Homo sapiens: one gene and its partners. The protein of the gene in region 2 purifies or fractionates together with the protein of the main gene of each other region. This does not show direct contact. Each region holds a gene or a part of one and is shown on either strand. Other genes may lie near its edges.

The links.
Region 1: the proteins of LRP8 (region 2) and CRTC3 purify together in Homo sapiens (affinity purification with mass spectrometry; one large-scale study listed by BioGRID and IntAct). This does not show direct contact.
Region 3: the proteins of LRP8 (region 2) and ANGEL2 purify together in Homo sapiens (affinity purification with mass spectrometry; one large-scale study listed by BioGRID and IntAct). This does not show direct contact.
Region 4: the proteins of LRP8 (region 2) and ARHGAP39 purify together in Homo sapiens (affinity purification with mass spectrometry; one large-scale study listed by BioGRID and IntAct). This does not show direct contact.

Annotation. Positions count from the first base shown.
Region 1 is NC_000015.10:90,640,626-90,644,922, forward strand, and holds part of CRTC3 (CREB-regulated transcription coactivator 3), read left to right. Parts: intron 1-416; exon of another isoform or gene 417-471; coding exon 472-574; exon of another isoform or gene 575-632; intron 633-1,306; coding exon 1,307-1,515; 3' UTR 1,516-4,297. UniProt on the Homo sapiens protein: Transcriptional coactivator for CREB1 which activates transcription through both consensus and variant cAMP response element (CRE) sites.
Region 2 is NC_000001.11:53,263,975-53,269,070, reverse strand, and holds part of LRP8 (low-density lipoprotein receptor-related protein 8 isoform 1 precursor), read left to right. Parts: exon of another isoform or gene 1-1,146; intron 1,147-1,913; exon of another isoform or gene 1,914-1,975; intron 1,976-2,423; coding exon 2,424-2,598; intron 2,599-3,057; exon of another isoform or gene 3,058-3,319; intron 3,320-4,674; coding exon 4,675-4,902; intron 4,903-5,096. UniProt on the Homo sapiens protein: Cell surface receptor for Reelin (RELN) and apolipoprotein E (apoE)-containing ligands. LRP8 participates in transmitting the extracellular Reelin signal to intracellular signaling processes, by binding to DAB1 on its cytoplasmic tail.
Region 3 is NC_000001.11:212,998,868-213,003,164, forward strand, and holds part of ANGEL2 (protein angel homolog 2), read right to left. Parts: intron 2,046-4,297; coding exon 1,919-2,045; intron 1,517-1,918; coding exon 1,459-1,516; intron 1-1,458.
Region 4 is NC_000008.11:144,675,847-144,680,143, forward strand, and holds part of ARHGAP39 (rho GTPase-activating protein 39), read right to left. Parts: intron 1-4,297.

The sequences.
Region 1 (4,297 bases), on a different chromosome or scaffold from region 2:
GAGCCGAGATGGCGCCATTGCACTCCAGCCTGGGCAACAGAGACCCTATCTTTAAAAAAAAAAAGAAGAAAGAAACCAAGGAAGAAGAGTCCATACTTCCTTGGTTATAGACAGAGCCTTTGAAGGGTTCCCACAGAAGGCAGTTTGCAAAGGCCTTGGTGAGGCTGAGGACAGATGTCTGAGGGGCCACAGAAACCATGAGCATTGGTGTCTCTTGGGATGGTGTAGTGGGCTGGGGAAAAGTCACCACGCTGTGGACCTCAGGGACCCCTCCTCCACCCCAGCGTCTGCCTGCCTGACAAGAATATTGTGCATGCATTACCATAAGAGCAAAGCACTCTGGGATCCTGGAAAGAAGGGAATATGGATTAGTTTGCAAGTCAGGTTTTGCTCTGGGAGCACATTGCAATACTCACTTCCTCCTTGGAAACAGAGGTGTGGCCTTCCTCACATGACCTTCGATGCTTCCAGGTGCCTCTGGTGCAACAAGGTTCCCGAGAACTGCAGGACTCTTTTCATTTGAGACCAAGCCCGTATTCCAACTGCGGGAGTCTCCCGAACACCATCCTGCCAGGTGAGCGAGCTATCCCTCAGCTTCTTTACTGCTTTTATGTTGTTGTGTGTTCAGGAACCTTCATAAGAGAGTTTAAACAACATAATATTATATAAAGCAAAAAGTTAACGTTCCCTGGGTCGACTTGACTTTTTGAGATGCAGGTGTCCAGCCTCAGAGACCGTGACACAGGGCGGTGGGCCTGGTAGTCAAAGCCTTTTCTGAAAGATTTCATCTGGCCCAGTGCGGTGGCTCACGCCTGTAATCCCAGCACTTTGGGAGGCCGAGGTGGGCGGATCATCAGGTCAGGAGATCGAGACCATTCTGGCTAACACAGCGAAACCCCGTCTCTACTAAAAAATACAAAAAAAATTAGCTGGGCATGGCGGCGGGCGCCTGTGGTCTCAGCTACTCGGGAGGCTGAGGCAGAATGGCACCAACCCAGGAGGTGGAGCTTGCAGTGAGCCGAGATTGTGCCACTGTACTCCAGCCTGGGCAACAGTCTCCAAAAAAAAAAAAAGATTTCATCTTAGGTGACTGATGACTGTTCAAAAGGAAAAAACCTGCAAAAATTGGGAGTTGTGCAACTGACTGACAAGAATGTAGATTCCAGGGCAAGAACTGTGGGCCTGGGGGTGGTCAGGATGTGTGGGATAGCAGTTTAGGGGACTGTCATCAGCTGGGTTTGCTTAGTAGCCTGGAGCCTTCGCGCCTCCTAACCGCACTGTTTTCCCCTCTGGCCACTCCTTTCAGAAGACTCCAGCACCAGCCTGTTCAAAGACCTCAACAGTGCGCTGGCAGGCCTGCCTGAGGTCAGCCTGAACGTGGACACTCCATTTCCACTGGAAGAGGAGCTGCAGATTGAACCCCTGAGCCTGGACGGACTCAACATGTTAAGTGACTCCAGCATGGGCCTGCTGGACCCCTCTGTTGAAGAGACGTTTCGAGCTGACAGACTGTGAACAGAAGGCAGTGGAACAGAAGAATGTTTTTCTGCAACAGCCAAAATAGAATGGAATAGAATGAAGCCAGCTGATACCACGGGCTTTCGTTATCTTGACATAGAAGGAAGCAATGCCACGGCTCCAGGGTTTCAGATGAGATCCCATCTCAGACACTGTGGCTTCCTCCAGATCACACAGCTTTGTACTGCCTCTCCCGCCTGTGGCCAAAGTCGTGTTGCAGCAGGCAGGCTGCTTGGAGCTTCCCATGAACTGGAAAGCTCACCTCCACTGCATCTTTTTACTGGCCATCCAGTCAGCCGATGTGTAAGAGTAGGAAATACTGTGTCACTGGAGGCCTCCGTAGCATTGTGTAGTGTGCTCAGAACCACTGATCTCCGTCCGCACCGAAGGCGGGCCCGGAGTGGGAGGCTCGGCCTGGGGCGGCGGCACCGGAGAGGGCACCTCGATGCCTGCTCTGACCTGACCCAGAGGGCGAGGCCCTCCAGCGGGGGACATTCCCAGGCTGAGTGGACCCCACGGCTCTCTCCCACGCCTGGATTACGACATGAAGTTTTTACCACAAGCCCGAGGGCAGGCTTGAGTTAGGCAGACTGAAGGCTAATTTTCATTTTCTCCCAGCTGGTTTCTGCTGCTTCAGAAAAGTACACCTTTTCCTTATGGACCAGAGGAAGAGGAAGACCATTTTATCAGTCACTGAAAAGAGTCCCCTGGCACTGATGAGCCTGAAGAGAACTGTGCTCCTCCTCGGGGGCTGGGGAAGGAAGACAGGGACTGCAGGTGTCTCATACTCAGTGGCCTCCAGACAAACTCCAGACAAGCACAGACCTCCCCACTAAGAGCAGCCAGAGGGAGCTGGTGAGGCCCTAACCCCACCCACCGAGCAACTGAGCTTCCCCATCCCTCCCCAGAGCTGTGTCTCTGTGGGCTGGGAGTCTAATGTCACCCCCCTAGACCGTAAGCTCCTTGAGGGCAGGGACAGTGCCTTATCATTGTTGAACCCGTAGCACCTAACACGTGCGTGGCAGCACAGTCGTGTGCTGGAGTGAGTGCTGCAGAACCGTGCGTGCAGCGCATGATGAATGAGTGCGTCCGCCATGCCGTAAGGCAGGCTCACCTGTAGCTATCCCCTTCCCTGCCAGATCTTCTCAGAGCTTTAGCTTTTCTAGCACTCGTGCCTATGGTGAAGCATGCACTTTAATATGCTTTTAACACTAGGTGACCAAATCACAGTGAAGCCGGGCACTGCATTCTCCTTGGGCTGTGCTCCACGCGGGTGGGTGGGAGCTGTCTTCTGAGTACATCCGGAAGGGCTGAGCAGGTGAGTGCCCTGAGCATCCTGGCTGGGCCCCACCCAGGAAGATCTTCCTTCTCAGATCCACGTTTGGCTCTAAATTGCTTCAAGTAGAGATTCATTCTTTGAGGTTGAAAAAATAGTTTATAGTAAAACGAAGGCCTAATTCATGGAAGCATCATTAGTCATCAATACCTTCTCATAAAATAGATGGGCCAGATTTCCACCACCGCCTGCCTCCTCTAACTTGGGTGATGCCAGTAGGTTTGAAGGGGGCAGAGCACTGCAGGGGGAGGGGGGGGTCTAGGCTGTGAGAGGACAGGGTGGAGAGGAGGAGAACCCTGAAGGAGAGACGGAAGATGCCAGGACCTTTGCTTGGACAGCCATTGCCCTTCCAGGAGACCCTGGAGTGTACTGAGGGTTGCTGGACTGTTCCACCCAGAGGAGCAAGGCTGTACAATGAGGGTCTGAATCTGGCACACCTGTCCCTTATGTAAAAGGAGTCGTGGTCACAAGACCCTGGGCTGGTTAGCCTCTCCCGACCTCATTCCATTTCTATCTTCTGACCTTGCCTCTCATCTTTAAAATAACCCTCATGGGGTGCCCCTCCACCTTCCTCTGGAATCCAAGTATTCCTGTTTCACATTTGCCCCAAATCTTTGCTGTGGAATTGGGAAATCAAACCAGAGTCCTCCTCGCCTGATTTCCAGCTCAGGAAGGGCCTGCTGGCCTGCCCTGTTCCCAGTTACACTTTCAGATCCCTTTGTGCTCAAGATCTCAGAGGGGGTGGCTTTTTGTTAAAGAGCCTTCAGTCGCAATGCTACCCAGCACCCCATGTGCCAAAAGAAACCAGCTCCTGTGTCAAAGGGCTTCCAAACCTGATCTCACTCTCAACAGGCGATGGTGCTGATGTTTCAAGAATTGTGTTTTTATAAAACAGAGGTCTCAGCATAGTCACTCTTCACATAGTGCCTTACCCATGGGTATCGTCATATCCGGGTCCCAGTTCAGTTTGTCTGCACAGCAGCCACCCTGCCTGGCAACAGAGACCCCAAGACCTACACAGTGAACCCTACTGCCCCAAAGGCGTTCTCCAGGTGACTTGTGAAAACAGACCTCCGGGGAAGTGATTTATTGGGGGTGTACACTGGGGGCAATATGGTTTAGCACTGAATTCAATTTGTCCTTAGGTCTATGAGTGAGTCCGATCTTTTCTTGTGAAAGGTTTTGGGCATCGTACAACCCACTCTGCCTAGAAGGTGTGGAGGACTCACCACGGGCAGGGTCGCCCTGGCCCACAGCACGTGAGCCTGCACTCACTGCGGCCTTTGTAACAAAACCAGTTGTGGTCCTCAGCATTTGAAGCAGCTGCATACTTCAGAGTAAACTATTTTTCATTATTTAGTTTTGTCACAAGAAATCGACCATTGTACTACTCTCACTTACAGCAGTTAAACAGCATAGAACTAAAAACCTGTCTGCATTTCC
Region 2 (5,096 bases):
CTGGATTTCACTCTAACTGGGGGGAAACCATTGAGGGCTCTGAGTAGGGAAGGGACATGGTGTGACATTTTATTCTGACTGCAGTATTGAGAACAGACTGTAGAGGACAAGGGAGAAGGCAGGGAAACCACTTAAGAGGTCATTGCAATAATCCAGAAGCGAGGTGATGGTGGCTGAACCCTTATTCCCACATTATTACTGTGGGAATAATGAAAAGTGGACAGACTGCAGATATAGTGCAAAGGCCAGCCAACAGGATTTGCTTATGAATTGAATGTGGAATGTGGAAAAAAAAGTTACAGCAACTGAAAAAATAAGATTGCTACGTATGGGCTTGGGAAAGATGGTGAGGGAAGCAGGTTTGGAGGAATCTTAGGCTGTTTTGGACATGTTATGTTTAAGAAAACTGGTTAGGTATCCAAGTAGAGATATTGAGAAGGCAGCTGGATATATGAGTCTGGAGTTCATATGCAAGTTAAATACAATATACAACAGATAAATTATAACAATACAGCAGCCATAATACTGACATGTAGCCCATAAACCCAAAAACTGTAACACCCAAACTGTACAATATGTAACTCATACATTAGTATATCACATATAACGTGTAACCTGTTCTTGCCCCCATATAGAACACATGTAATACATGACACAGATTATGTACATGCACTGGAGACAACATGCAACTACCCATGCATATACAAAATCCACACACATGAATATTTCAAGTGCAGTTACATAAAATCTCAAATCATAAACACAGGGGGTTCCTGTCACAGTCACAGCTGTCATTTAAGATCACTCCAACATGCCCCTTTAACCTGGCTCCTGCCTTCAGGGAGGTGAAGTGTCATTACTGTCATTTTGGGGTGAGGGAAATCACAGCTTGTCAGTGGCAGAGCTGGCCTGTAACTCAGCTTTCATCCTTGCCCCTTCCTGCACCTTGAGCCCATTCTCCATGCTATTTGTACCACACTTCTGTCTCACTCCCACCCTGCTTTGAATTAGTCTCCATCACTACACACAGGTCACACACCCAGCCCCAGGCCCTACCTGACTCTGTGCTGGTCCCATCCTCCAGGGAGCACATTAGCTTGGCAAAGATGCACAGTGACAGGGACTGGTGGCTGGCAGAAGTGTCAGCTGGAAAACAAGAGAAGGAGGCACAGGGAGCTTGAGGGGCAGGTGTTACTAGGAGCAGCCCCTCAGACAGTGTTGGTGCCTGAGAGTGGCCCAATACATCTAGAAACAGCCTGTGGGAGCTGGTGCTAGGCCCTCAGAGGCCCATGGGACAGTGTCCTCCCATATGGAGTAGCCAGGAAAGTCTAGGTCACTTATTTATCATCTTAAAATCTAACCCTAAATCTAAGAAAAATACAGGTTTTGTGTATACATGAGCAGTTTATGTTGTCTCTACTGCATATATATAATCTGTGTTGTATATCATATATGTCCCATCTCTGCCATTGGCTCAGGATAGAGAACAAACTCACCCAGCTCATAGGACCTTTTGTGATCTGGCCCCTGCCAATCTCTGAAGCTCATCTCTTGCTATGTCCCCAATACTTTCTATCCTGAATCATCTTTTTTTTTTTCCTTTGAGACAGAGTCTCTGTCACTCAGGCTGGAGTGCAGTGGCACAATCATGGCTCACTGCAGCCTTAACCTCCCGGGCTCAAATGATTCTCCCACTTCAGCCTCCTGAGTAGCTGGGACTACAGGCATGTGCCACCATGCCCAGCTAATTTTTTTTTTATTTTTATTTTTAGAGATGGGATTTTGCCATATTACCCAGGCTAGTCTCAAACTCCTGGCCTCAAGCGATGTGCCAGCCTCAGCCTCCTAAAGTGCTGGGATTACAGGTGTGAGCCACTGTGCCTGGCCCCTAGTTATCTTTCTAAGACACTTACTTGCTCAGGTAGTTCCTTCTTGAACCACAGCAGTAGGGCCCAAGCAGAGAAGATGATAGTTGCTGGAAAGAAATACATAGTAGGTGGAAGGGACAACCTGAGCAAAGGCTCTGAGGCAGGAAGCCCATCCATGGCTAGGTAATGGTATCTGGTAGGTGGAATCAAGCTATGTTGGAGAGGCGAGTAATGAGGCTGGACAGGGAACTTGGGGTCACACTGTGGAAGGCTTTCAGTGCAGGCCTAAGGAGAAAATGGGGAGCCATAAAAGATTTTGGAGAAGTTTGTATCTAATAAAAAGAATAAGAATCTTCCTGCTATGCGTGGTGCTCTGCATCTTCTGCTTTCTGTACTCATTATTTCATCTGCTCCTGCAACCTGTAAAGTAGGAATTGTCACTACTATTTTAAGGAAAATGGATGTGTCAGCCAGCAAGCCAGTGGCAGAGTCTTGGTCTCCAGGCTCCCTGCCTCTTGCACTGACTCTTTCTCTTTCAACCTCCCTGCATGACAGCTGGCAAGAGCCCATCCCTAATCTTCACCAACCGGCACGAGGTGCGGAGGATCGACCTGGTGAAGCGGAACTATTCACGCCTCATCCCCATGCTCAAGAATGTCGTGGCACTAGATGTGGAAGTTGCCACCAATCGCATCTACTGGTGTGACCTCTCCTACCGTAAGATCTATAGGTGAGCGGCCATATCCTCTGCAGCAAGGCATGAAGAGTGGGGGTGAGGGGTGGTGACAGGTGAGGAGGGGAGGAGTGGTGTCTGCCTCTAGAGCTCCTCAGGACAGAGTTGGGACTTGGGAAGAGATGCAGGATCACAGTGGATATGGAACTTCTGGGACTTTACTGGGGCTGGAGTAGTCTGAGGGCTCCCTTGGGTTAGCAGCTTTGAGCCCCAAACACCTGGGATTTGTCTGACCTCTGGAGGCCTAATATGGAAGCACAAGACACAGGAACTGTTTGGCCAGGGCAGAAAGGAAGAAATCCTGGCTTTGGGGAGGACTTTCCAAGCAGCTCACATCCCTGTGTGTTGGAACCTGGGGACTTAGACCTGGTCCCTGCCCAGAGGATCCCACTCACAACACAGTGACATCCATTTGTGATGATCATGAGAAAGTACAGAGGAGGCCTCCGAACCCACCTGGGCATCTGATCTGGCATGCCTTCCTGGATGGCATCACCCCAAGGCCAGCTTTTCACTGTCTTTGACGCCACAGTCAGTGGACCTGGTGCTTGGGAAGCTCTTCACACACTGGAGGAGGTTCTCTCCTAGGACTTTCTCAGATGCCAGCACCTGCCCCACTGCATGTCTGGGCCCTCTTCAGGCAGTCATGTCCTTTCTTTGTCCTGAGATCCACTTGGCAGGAATGCCGATGACCAGGCGCTGGGTAGACACTGAGTCACTGATGAAAGAATGATGGGACAGATGGGTGGAAGAGTGGATGGAAGCAAATATAGCAAGTGCTACTCACTGACAACTAGATTCCTGCCTCCCTGCAACATACAGACACTCCGTTCACACACACCCAAAAACATAACTAGAACAATGCCTGTCCAAGAGATGTAACTGAAAGAGGCAGGATTTGGTGACAGACTAGATATGGGGCTGATGGAAGAAATTTACTCCTTCATAGTGAATTTTGGGAGTTTCAGGTTTTTGGCTTGGGAGGTTTCATGAATGGTGGTGCTGTTCTCTGATGTGTGAAGCAGTAGAGGAGGATCAGGGCTCAGGGTTTGGGCCGTCTGGTTGGCCGAGGGGAAGGGAATGGGGATGAACAGTTTTGGACATATTGAGTTCAAGGTGTCCATGGGACATCCAAGGGGAGCTAGTTAGCTTTGCAGTCTGGATCGTAAGAGAGCTGTTGGGATTGGAGACTTAGTTATTGATGGCAGTGGACACTAAGGAACTAATCACCCAGAGAGAGGGCAAGAAGAAGAAAACCTCTGGGGAAACAGCATTTGCTATTTTGCTAATGTTGCCTCCTGAGTGTCTACTGTATTCTTAGCCCTTCTTTCCATTCTCACTGGCACGGTCATTCTTCAGACTCTCTTAATCTCCCACCCAGATGCTGTAACGTCCTCCTAACCAGTTTCCCTGCTTCATTCCCTCTCCTTCCAACCCATCCACTCCATAGATGCCACAGTGAACTAACATGCTTATTGGACTATATCCTCTGGCCTGTCTAGTTATCACTGGGGAGAAATCCTAATTCCTTGGCGTGGTACTCAAAGCCCATCAAGATGGGGTTCCTGCCTACACCTGCTTGCAGTCTGACACCCACATAAGCAGCTCCCCTAAGTATCTCACTGTTCCAGAGCAGACTCACCTCTGGCCATTTGCACAAGCCTTTCTTGTTCCCTAATGGCTTTCTGTCCTGGTGACTTCATGCTCCTGGTGAACTCGTCCTTCAGGACTCAACTATAAAGCCTTCTCCCGCCCTCTCGGATGAGGCAGTCTCCATGCCTCTGCTGCCATAGCCTCTAATGCTTTCCATAATCACATTGTATTATATCTGGCTCACCCTAATGGGCAGAGCTGTGGAGCAGCCCCACCTTAGAAAGCCAGAGACCGTGGCCCATGTAAGTCTGTACCCCTACCCTGGTACCCCAGGGAATGTGTAGAGTGGAAATTATCCACGTTCCTCTAAAAATCTATTGCCATGGCCCAGATGGAAGAGAGGGGAAGGGTGCACAGGTAGCTCCAGATGGGCCCATGGGTGGAACATCTGCCCCATGGTCATCTCTGTTTTCTCTTAAGCGCCTACATGGACAAGGCCAGTGACCCGAAAGAGCAGGAGGTCCTCATTGACGAGCAGTTGCACTCTCCAGAGGGCCTGGCAGTGGACTGGGTCCACAAGCACATCTACTGGACTGACTCGGGCAATAAGACCATCTCAGTGGCCACAGTTGATGGTGGCCGCCGACGCACTCTCTTCAGCCGTAACCTCAGTGAACCCCGGGCCATCGCTGTTGACCCCCTGCGAGGGTGAGTGTCCCAACTGAACTTCCCATTCTCCCACCATAGGTGCTCAGTCCTCTTGTGTCTGTCACAAGGGCTATCTTGAGGGTTCTAGAAAGCTCTGGGCCACTCAGACACAGGCCATGGGGAAGAAAGTCTTGTTAATCCCCAACCAAGGTTCTCTGGGCATTGGTCACCAAAGTTCTCCCTGGACTCTCCCA
Region 3 (4,297 bases), about 160 Mb from region 2:
TATCTATTTTTTAAAATTATTATCATTATTGAGACGGAGGCTTGCTTTGTCACCCAGGCTGGAATGCGGTGGTGCGATCTCGGCTCACTGCAACCTCTGCCCCCCAGGGTTCAAGCAATACTCTGCCTCAGCCTACCTGGGATTACACGTGCATGCCACCATGCCCGGCTAATTTTTTGTATTTTTAGTAAAGATGGGGTTTCACCATCTTGGCCAGACTGCTCTTGAACTCCTGACCTCGTGATCCACCCACCTCAGCCTCCCAAAGTGCCGAGATTACAGGCACGAGCCACCACGCCCGGCCAGAATGTTTTAATTTTTTTTTTAATAGAGGCAGGGTCTCACTGTGTTGCCCAGGCTGGTTTCAAACTCCTGGGCTCAAGCAATCCTCCCGCCCTGGCCTCCCAAAGTGCTGAGATTATAGGCGTGAGCCAACACGCCCAGCCAATATCTTTTTTATATCCTATATTGTTACAAAAAGATTTAAGAGTTACTCAAAACGAAGTACTTGTTAGATTAGCCTCCTTATTAATCTTATTCAAAGAAGTTTTTACTATATTGAAAGGTTTAATCATGAATTTTAAAATATTCATTTAAAAAATTTTTTTAAAAATTGCTTCCATTCTTACTAGTTCTTATTTATGTAGTAATATTTTCTCAAAACAAGGTATACAAAATAAAGATTGAGAAGCAGATAAAATAAATGAGAATTGGTCCCTAAATTTAAATGTTAAAACAAAAAACTATAAAACAGCCACAATATAATTAACAATCAAGATATTTCAAGAATCTCCCTGAGACAAGATTTAAGTCTCTGTCCTGTTTTATTAACATGTATCAATTTCTCAACCATAGCCCCAAATATTCCTATTTCTTTAATGAAGAATTCCAGCATCTTCACCCCTCTGACAATCTTCTCCTACAGTTCAAGAGATAAATTAAAATGATCATCTTTTCAACTGGCATATTCATTTTTGGATCAATTCTCTTATAGATGGTTTTGAGATTTAGTAAATCAAAGACAACTAAAGATCCTTTTGAGATCTGAAAGATATTTTTATGTGATCTTGACCTTTGTTTAAGTATGTGAATTTCAAAGAGTATTTGAGCTGGTCCAGGTCCACAGACAAGCTGTTTCCCTTCCTAACACTACCTAGGTGCCTAGGTATGTTTCAGACATTGTGCTTTATATGCTTTGTCTCATCTAATCCTCACAACAATCCAAACTATAGACAAAGAAACTGAACCTCAGAGATGTTAAGTTTCTTGCTCAAAATCATTCGGCTAAAACACAGCAGAGTCAGGACTGGAACTCAGGCCTATCTGACTTAAGGGCCAGCACCCTTCACCAGCACGGAATACTATCACCTTCATTTTTTTATCCAAGTGATTTTTGAGAAATGAGTTTTTTATTCAACTAAAGTTAGCAAATGTCTCCTTTTGCTTTCCAGAACTCACTTTTCAGCTGTCACTAGGACCTCTGTTTGCTTCAGCTGTGTTTGTGTCAGATCACTGTCTGTAAGAATAGAGGAAAATATATTAATGTTATTGTTCTAGTTTGCCTTAATATCGTCATCTTACTCTAGAAACAATATTTAAGACTTATCTAGGTTAGAAAGATGCCTAGTTACATGTTTCATTCTGGAATCTATATATTTCGATGGCCTCCAGAATTAGGAAAAATAGAAAAATGCAAACAATTCCAAAGCAACATGCAAGTAAATCATGCACAGATAATTCTGGAAGTTCAACTTTAAAAAGGTAAATTTAGAGGTCTTAAGAAAAAAAATGAATAACTACATATTTATATATATGAATATTCATCCCTGAGATTTTTTCTTTTTAAAAACTTAGTTTTATGTCTTCAAAGGGAACATGATTACCCAGCAGACTGCCAAAATGTATTACAAACACTTACCTGTCTTTTCTACTTTTGGTACCTGCTGTACCTCATACACACAGTTCTGTGAGATACCTAGGTTTGGGGGCCAAATTGGAATAGATAAAATTCTTTGTCCCCGTGAAGACTGTTCCTGGCCAGATACCTAAACAAAATTTCAACAGGTATCTTAAGTGAAAAGATTTTAAATAGCTTATGAGTTGAAAAATTTATGTCTTAAATAAAAGGTAATCCAAAAGTGGTAAATTATTACCCTTTATTCATTGTATTAAGTGATTCTTTGGACTTATAAAATCTTCTTTTCTTTAAATACAATTCAGAAAGCACTTATCATTTACATAAAAATGACAATCTTTTTCCCATACATGCTTTTCTTTAATTTGGACATACAAATCATCTATCGCTTTGAACTAACACTATTCATCATTTTTTACTACCTGCAATATAGTTCCTATTGTATCAAATATAGGCATGCTCACAGGTACTGCGGGTTTGGTTTCAGGCCACCACAATAAAGTGAGTATCTCAATAAAGCAAGTCACATAATTTTTTCAGTTTCCCAGTGCATGTAAGTTGCGTTTATACTATACTGTAGTTTACTAAGTGTGCAATAGCATTATGCCTAAGAAAATACATACCTTAATTTAAAAATACTTCATTGTTAAAATATCCTAACAATCATCTCAGCCTTCAGTGAGTCATCATCTTTTTACAGGTGGAGGATCTTGCCTAGATATTAATGACTGCTGGCTGATCAGGGTGATGGTTGCTTAAAGTGGGGGTTGGCTGTGGCAATTTCTTAAAATAAGACAACAATGAAATTTGCTGCAGCCATTGATGCTTCCTTTCATAAAAGATTTTTCTGTAGCATCTGATGCTATTTGACAGCACTTTATCCACGGAACTTTTTTTCAAAATTGGAAACCCTTCCAATGTTTTATCAATTAAATTTATGTAACATTTAAAATCCTTTGTTGTAATTTCAGCAATGTTCACAGCATCTTCACCAGGAATAGAATGCATCTCAAGAAAATACTCTGCTCATCTATAAGAAGCAACTCCTCATCTATTTAAGTTTTATCATGAGATTGAAACAATTCAGTTAATTCTTCAGGCTCCACTTCTAGTTCTCTTGCTATTTCCACCACATCTACAGTTACTTCCTCCCCTGAAGTCTTGAACCCCTCAAAGTCATCCATGAGGGCTGGAATCAACTTCTACCAAACTCTTTTTAATGGTGATATTTTGACCTCCTCCCATGAATCACGAATGTTCTGAATAGCATTTAGGATGCTGAATCCTTTGCAGGTTTGCAATTTACTTTCCCCAGATCCATCAGAGAAATCACTTCTATGGCAGCTATAGCCTATGAAATGTATTTCTTAAATAAGGAGACCTGTAGGTACAAAATTACTCCTTGATTCCATAGGCTGCAGAATGGATGCCGTGTTAGCAGGGATGAAAAAACATTCATTTCCTTGTACATCTTCATCAGAGCTCTTGGGTGACCAGGTGCCTTGTGAACGAACAGTAATCTTTGGAAAGGAATCTGTTTTTCTGAATAGTGGTCTCAGCAGTGTGCTTAAAATATTCTATGCCATAAACAGATGCACTGTCATCCCCAAGCTTTGTTTTTCCACTGACATAGCACAGGTAGAGTGGATTTAGCATAATTTTTAAGTGCCCTAGGATTTTCAGAATGGTCAATGAATGCTGACTTTAACTTAAAGTAACAAGCTATATTAGCTCCTAACAAAAGAGTCAGCCTGTCCTTTGAAACCAGGCACTGACTTCTTCTTTCTAGTTATGAAGTCCTAGATGGCATCTTCTTGCAATATAAAGTGGTTTCATCCACATTAAAAATTGTTGGCCAGGTGCGGTGGCTCATGCCTGTAATCCCAACACTTTGAGGGGCTGAGGCAGGAGGATTGCTCAAGCCCAGGAGTTCGAGACCAGCCTGGGCAACATGGTGAAACGCCACCTCTACCAAAAAATATTAAAAAATTAGCCCGGCGTGGAGGCATGCACCTGTAATCCCACCTACTTGGGAAGCTGAAGCAGAATCGCTGGAACCCAGGAGGCAGAGGTAGCAGTGAACCGAGATCGTGTCACTGCAGTCCAGCCTGGGCAACAGCGCGAGATCCTGTCTCAAAAAAAAAAAAAAAAAAATCTATTATTTAGTGTAGCCACCTTCATCAATGATCTTAGCTAGATCTTCTGGATAACCTACTGCAGCTTCTACATCAGCAGCACTTGCTGCTTTACCTGTACTTTTATGTTATGGAGATGGCTTCATTCTTTAAACCTCATAAATTAACCTCTGTTAACTTCCAACTTCTCTTCTGCAGCTTCCTCATCTCTCAGCCTTCAAAAAATTGAAGAGACTTAATGCATTCC
Region 4 (4,297 bases), on a different chromosome or scaffold from region 2:
TGTTCGTTCCCTCCGGTGGGTTCGTGGTCTTCCTGGCTTCAGGAGTGAAGCTGCAGACCTTCGCGGTGAGTGTTACGGTTCATGAAGATAGCATGTCCAGAGTTGTTCCTTCCTCCCGTCAGGAGTTGTTCTTCCCTCCCAGTGGGTTCATGGTCTCGCTGGCTTCAGGAGTGAAGCTGCAGACCTTCTCGGTGAGTGTCACAGCTCATAAAGGCGGCGCGGACCCAAAGAGTGAGCACCAGCAAGATTTAGTGCGAAGAGCAAAAGAACAAAGCTTCCACAGCATGGAAGGGGACCCCAGCGTGTTGCCGCTGCTGGCTTGGGTGGCCTGCTTTTATTCCCTTATCTGGCTCCACCCACCTCCCACCGATTGGTCCATTTTACACAGAGCTGATTGGTCCGTTTTGACAGGGTGCTGATTAGTATGTTTACAAACCTTCAGCTAAACACAGAGTGCTGATTGGTGCATTTACAATACTTTAGCTAGACACAAAAGTTCTCCAAGTCCCCACTAGATTAGCTAGACACAGAGCACTGATTGGTGCGTTTACAAACCTTGAGCTAGACACGGGTGCTGCTGACTGGTGCGTTTACAAACCTTGAGCTAGACACACGTGCTGCTGACTGGTGCGTTTACAAACCTTGAGCTAGACACACAGTGCTGATTGGTGCGTTTACAAACCTTTAGCTAGACACAGACTGCTGATTGGTGTGTTTACAAACCTTTAGCTAGACAGAAAAGTTCTCCAAGTCCCCACCCGACCCAGAAGCCCAGCCGGCTTCACCTCTCAATGGTGGGACTTCACGGCACCTAGCCCGGGCACTCCGGCAGCCCAGAGGAAGCTCGTCCCAGATCAAGCCCAGCAGGCGCCAGCCACAGCACCGGCTCCCGCCCACGCCTCTCCCTCCACACCTCTCTGCGAGCAGAGGGAGCCGGCTCTGGCCTCGGCCAGCCCCAGAGAGAGGCCCCCACAGCGCAGCAGCTGGCTGAAGGGCTCCTCCAGCGTGGCCAGAGCGGACGCCGAGGAGGCGCCGAGAGCAAGCGAGGGCTGCCAGCACGTTGTCACCTCTCACCTCCACGCCCAGCTAATTTTTGTACTTTTAGTATAGACAGGGTTTCACCATGTTGGTCAGGATGGTCTTGATCTCTTGACCTCATGATCCGCCCGCCTGGGCCTCCCAAAGTGCTGGGATTAGAGGCCTGAGCCACCGTGCCTGGCCTGCATATTTTTAAGGTTCACACACGTTATAACATGAATCAGTAACTCACTTCCTTTTATTGCCAAATAATATTCCATTGCAGGAATGGACCACATTGTGTTTATCCGTTCATCCGCTGATGGACATTTAGGTTGTCTCCACTTTCTGGCTGTTGTGAACACTCATGGACAAGCTTCTGCGTGGACGTGTATATTTCCAGTCACTCAACCAAAAGAACACACAAAAGGTGAACCAGTTTCCAACTGAGACATTCATTTAATTTGACCTACTATATTATTTAAAATATAGAGAGATGAGATAATTAGGAGAAATAAATGACCAAAGGAAGTGCAGAAATAAAGACACTAAGAGACAAGAGCAAACCCTGATGTGACGGAATAAACGGTGATTGAAGAAAGAGATGCTATTTCTAGGATGGGTCCTACAGGTACATTTGCAAAACACTGTGCCTATAGCCTTGCTGGTAACAGCATGAAAATTCCACAGCACCTCCATACAGCCAAATACAGTGCGGCCATGGAAAGAATGTACCGGAAAATGTACTGATATGGAAAGATCTCTCAAACATAGTTGAAAAAGGCAAGGTTCAGAAACTTTTTAAAAAGAAAAGGGTAAGGAAAAAAACAGAATACATACACTTGTTTGCTTGCAAAGTTACAAAGTATCTCTAGAAGGATACACAAGAAGCTGGTCCAGCAAAGCTTCCAGGGGAACCAGGTTCCAGGGTAGAGACTAGGAGGCTTCACTGAGCTCCCTTTGTACTTTTGAACCACGTATATTATCTGCTCAAAAATGTTAAACAAAATTGAAACTTTCTAGGAAGCAAAAATAGAGAATCTGTGAGAATCAAGACATTTACACTTAGGAAAGCAAGTTACAAGAGAGGCCCAGGAAGATGGAAGCAGCCGACGTGGGAAATGTGTCAACGAGTCCCTCCCCCTGCTGCGCCAGCCATTCTCTGAGGGCAACTCCCCATCCTAAACCCAATCATCTTTACTGAAGCCAGTGCTCAAAGAAAATGTTGCAATCTGCAGCAAGACATTCAGAACACAAACAGCCAAGTGCCATGGCTCATGTCTACAATCCTGGCACTTTCGGAGGCCGAGGTGGGAGGATCACTTGAGCCCAGGAGATGGAGGCTGCACTGAGCTGTGATCATACCACTGCACTCCAGCCTGGACAACCCACCCTGACTCTCTCTCTAAAAAAAAAAAAAGAAAATACAAATGTATCTGCTGCCCTCAAGGACTTCCCAGTCTAGAGGGGAGAAAATATTATGTGATTGTGCAGTGACCAAAAGCACCACCTAGAGCACTACGAGAGGGGGTGGAGCACCTGAGGACAAGGCAGCGATCCAGGAGGCGCTCCCACAGACATTACCTGAGTCTGAGTCAAAGGGCTGAAGGAACCAGTGAGCTTGGCTTAGTTTTGGAAGGAGGGACGCCAAGAAAGACTTGGCCCATGACCACATGGCAGTTTTTCTGGAGAGCAGAGTAGGTTGGGGTCACGCAGCGCTGTGGAGCATGGTCCAGGAGGCACTGGGGAGCCAGGGAGGAGAGCCAGGCAGCAGAGTCACTCGCCTAGACGCTCTGAGCCTGGCGCCATCCTGTGCACTGTAGGATTTCAACAGCATCCCCAGCCTCCACAAATCCTTGGCCATCCCCTCCTAGTTGGGACAACCAAAAATGTCTCCAAATATTGCCAAATGTGGCAGGAGGGCGGGGAGTGGTGTCAGAATCACCCCTGGGGAGATCACTGCCCTGTTTATATCATCTGAGCAGCTATGTGGCAGAGACAGGGGAGTGGCTCAAGGCTGGGGCAGGAGAGCCCCAGGAGGTACAGCGTAGTGCAGGAGGGACATGGTGCAGGTCCCACTCAGGCAGGGGTTCTGATCACTGTTCAGGGGGAACTGGCAAGAGGACCTGGAGCCGTACCACATGGCAGCTGAGAGGGGGACCCAGCACGCCAAAATTCTAGGTGGTGACCAAGCAGGTGAAGGTCCCAAAGCCCCAAAGGGTTGAGGCCAGAAGTGAATGTGGGTGCTGAGTCTGAGCCGCCTCAGGGGCTCTCGCGCATGGTGGCCGGCTCCAGCGTCCAGCATCTGCGGCTGAGGGGAGACATCCAGCTGCACCTTCAGTCATGGTGAGATGGCCCAGACAGCAGGTACGGGCTCCTCAGCTCTGCTCAGCACAGCGTCCGAGCAGGGGCTCACCTTCCCCATAGGAGGCTGTACGTCACACCCTGCTTTGGTCCGTGGACCCTGAGATGCCAGTCCAGGATGGTGCCGGAAAAGACACTAGGTTTCTGCCACTCTCTTGCCATAAAAACAGCATGTGCCACATAAGGCCTGGTCCTGGATCTGGAAATGAAGACTCTTGGAAAAGAGTCACAAGCAAACGAAACGCGGGCAGGAATCAGCCTCTGCTGCTGTGAGCGCTGCAGTGCTGGGGTTGCTACTGCAACTCGCTCTGGAGAAAGCTGTCCAGTAAACTCCTGGATTTGGATTTCTTCCTTCACCAACCCATCCTACAGAACATTGCCAATTAAATCTCCCTAAACCATTAATCAGGACATCCCCTGCTCACAAAGCTGCCTGCGGTGGCTCCCGGTTAGCTAGAAAATTAAAATCTAGGCCGGGCGCAGTGTCTCACGCCTGTAATCCCAGCACTTTGGGAGGCCAAGGCGGGCGGATCACGAGGTCAGGAGATCGAGACCATCCTGGCTAACACAGTGAAACCCCGTGTCTACTAAAAACACAAAAAATTAGCCGGGCATGGTGGTAGGCACCTGTAGTCCCAGTTACTTGGGAGGCTGAGGCAGGAGAATGGCGTGAACCCAGGATGCGGAGCTTGCAGTGAGTCGAGATCGCGCCGCCGCACTCCAGCCTGGACGACAGAGCAAGACTCCATCTCAAAAACAAAAAGAAAATTAAAATCTAAAGCCTTTAACTGGAATTCAAAGACCTTCTCATTATGACCCTTATCTCCCATTATTCCTTACACAACCTTTAAACCGCTAGAAACCACACATAACCAACCTTCTCACCTTTGCTCCCAAAATGTGAAAATACTTCTGT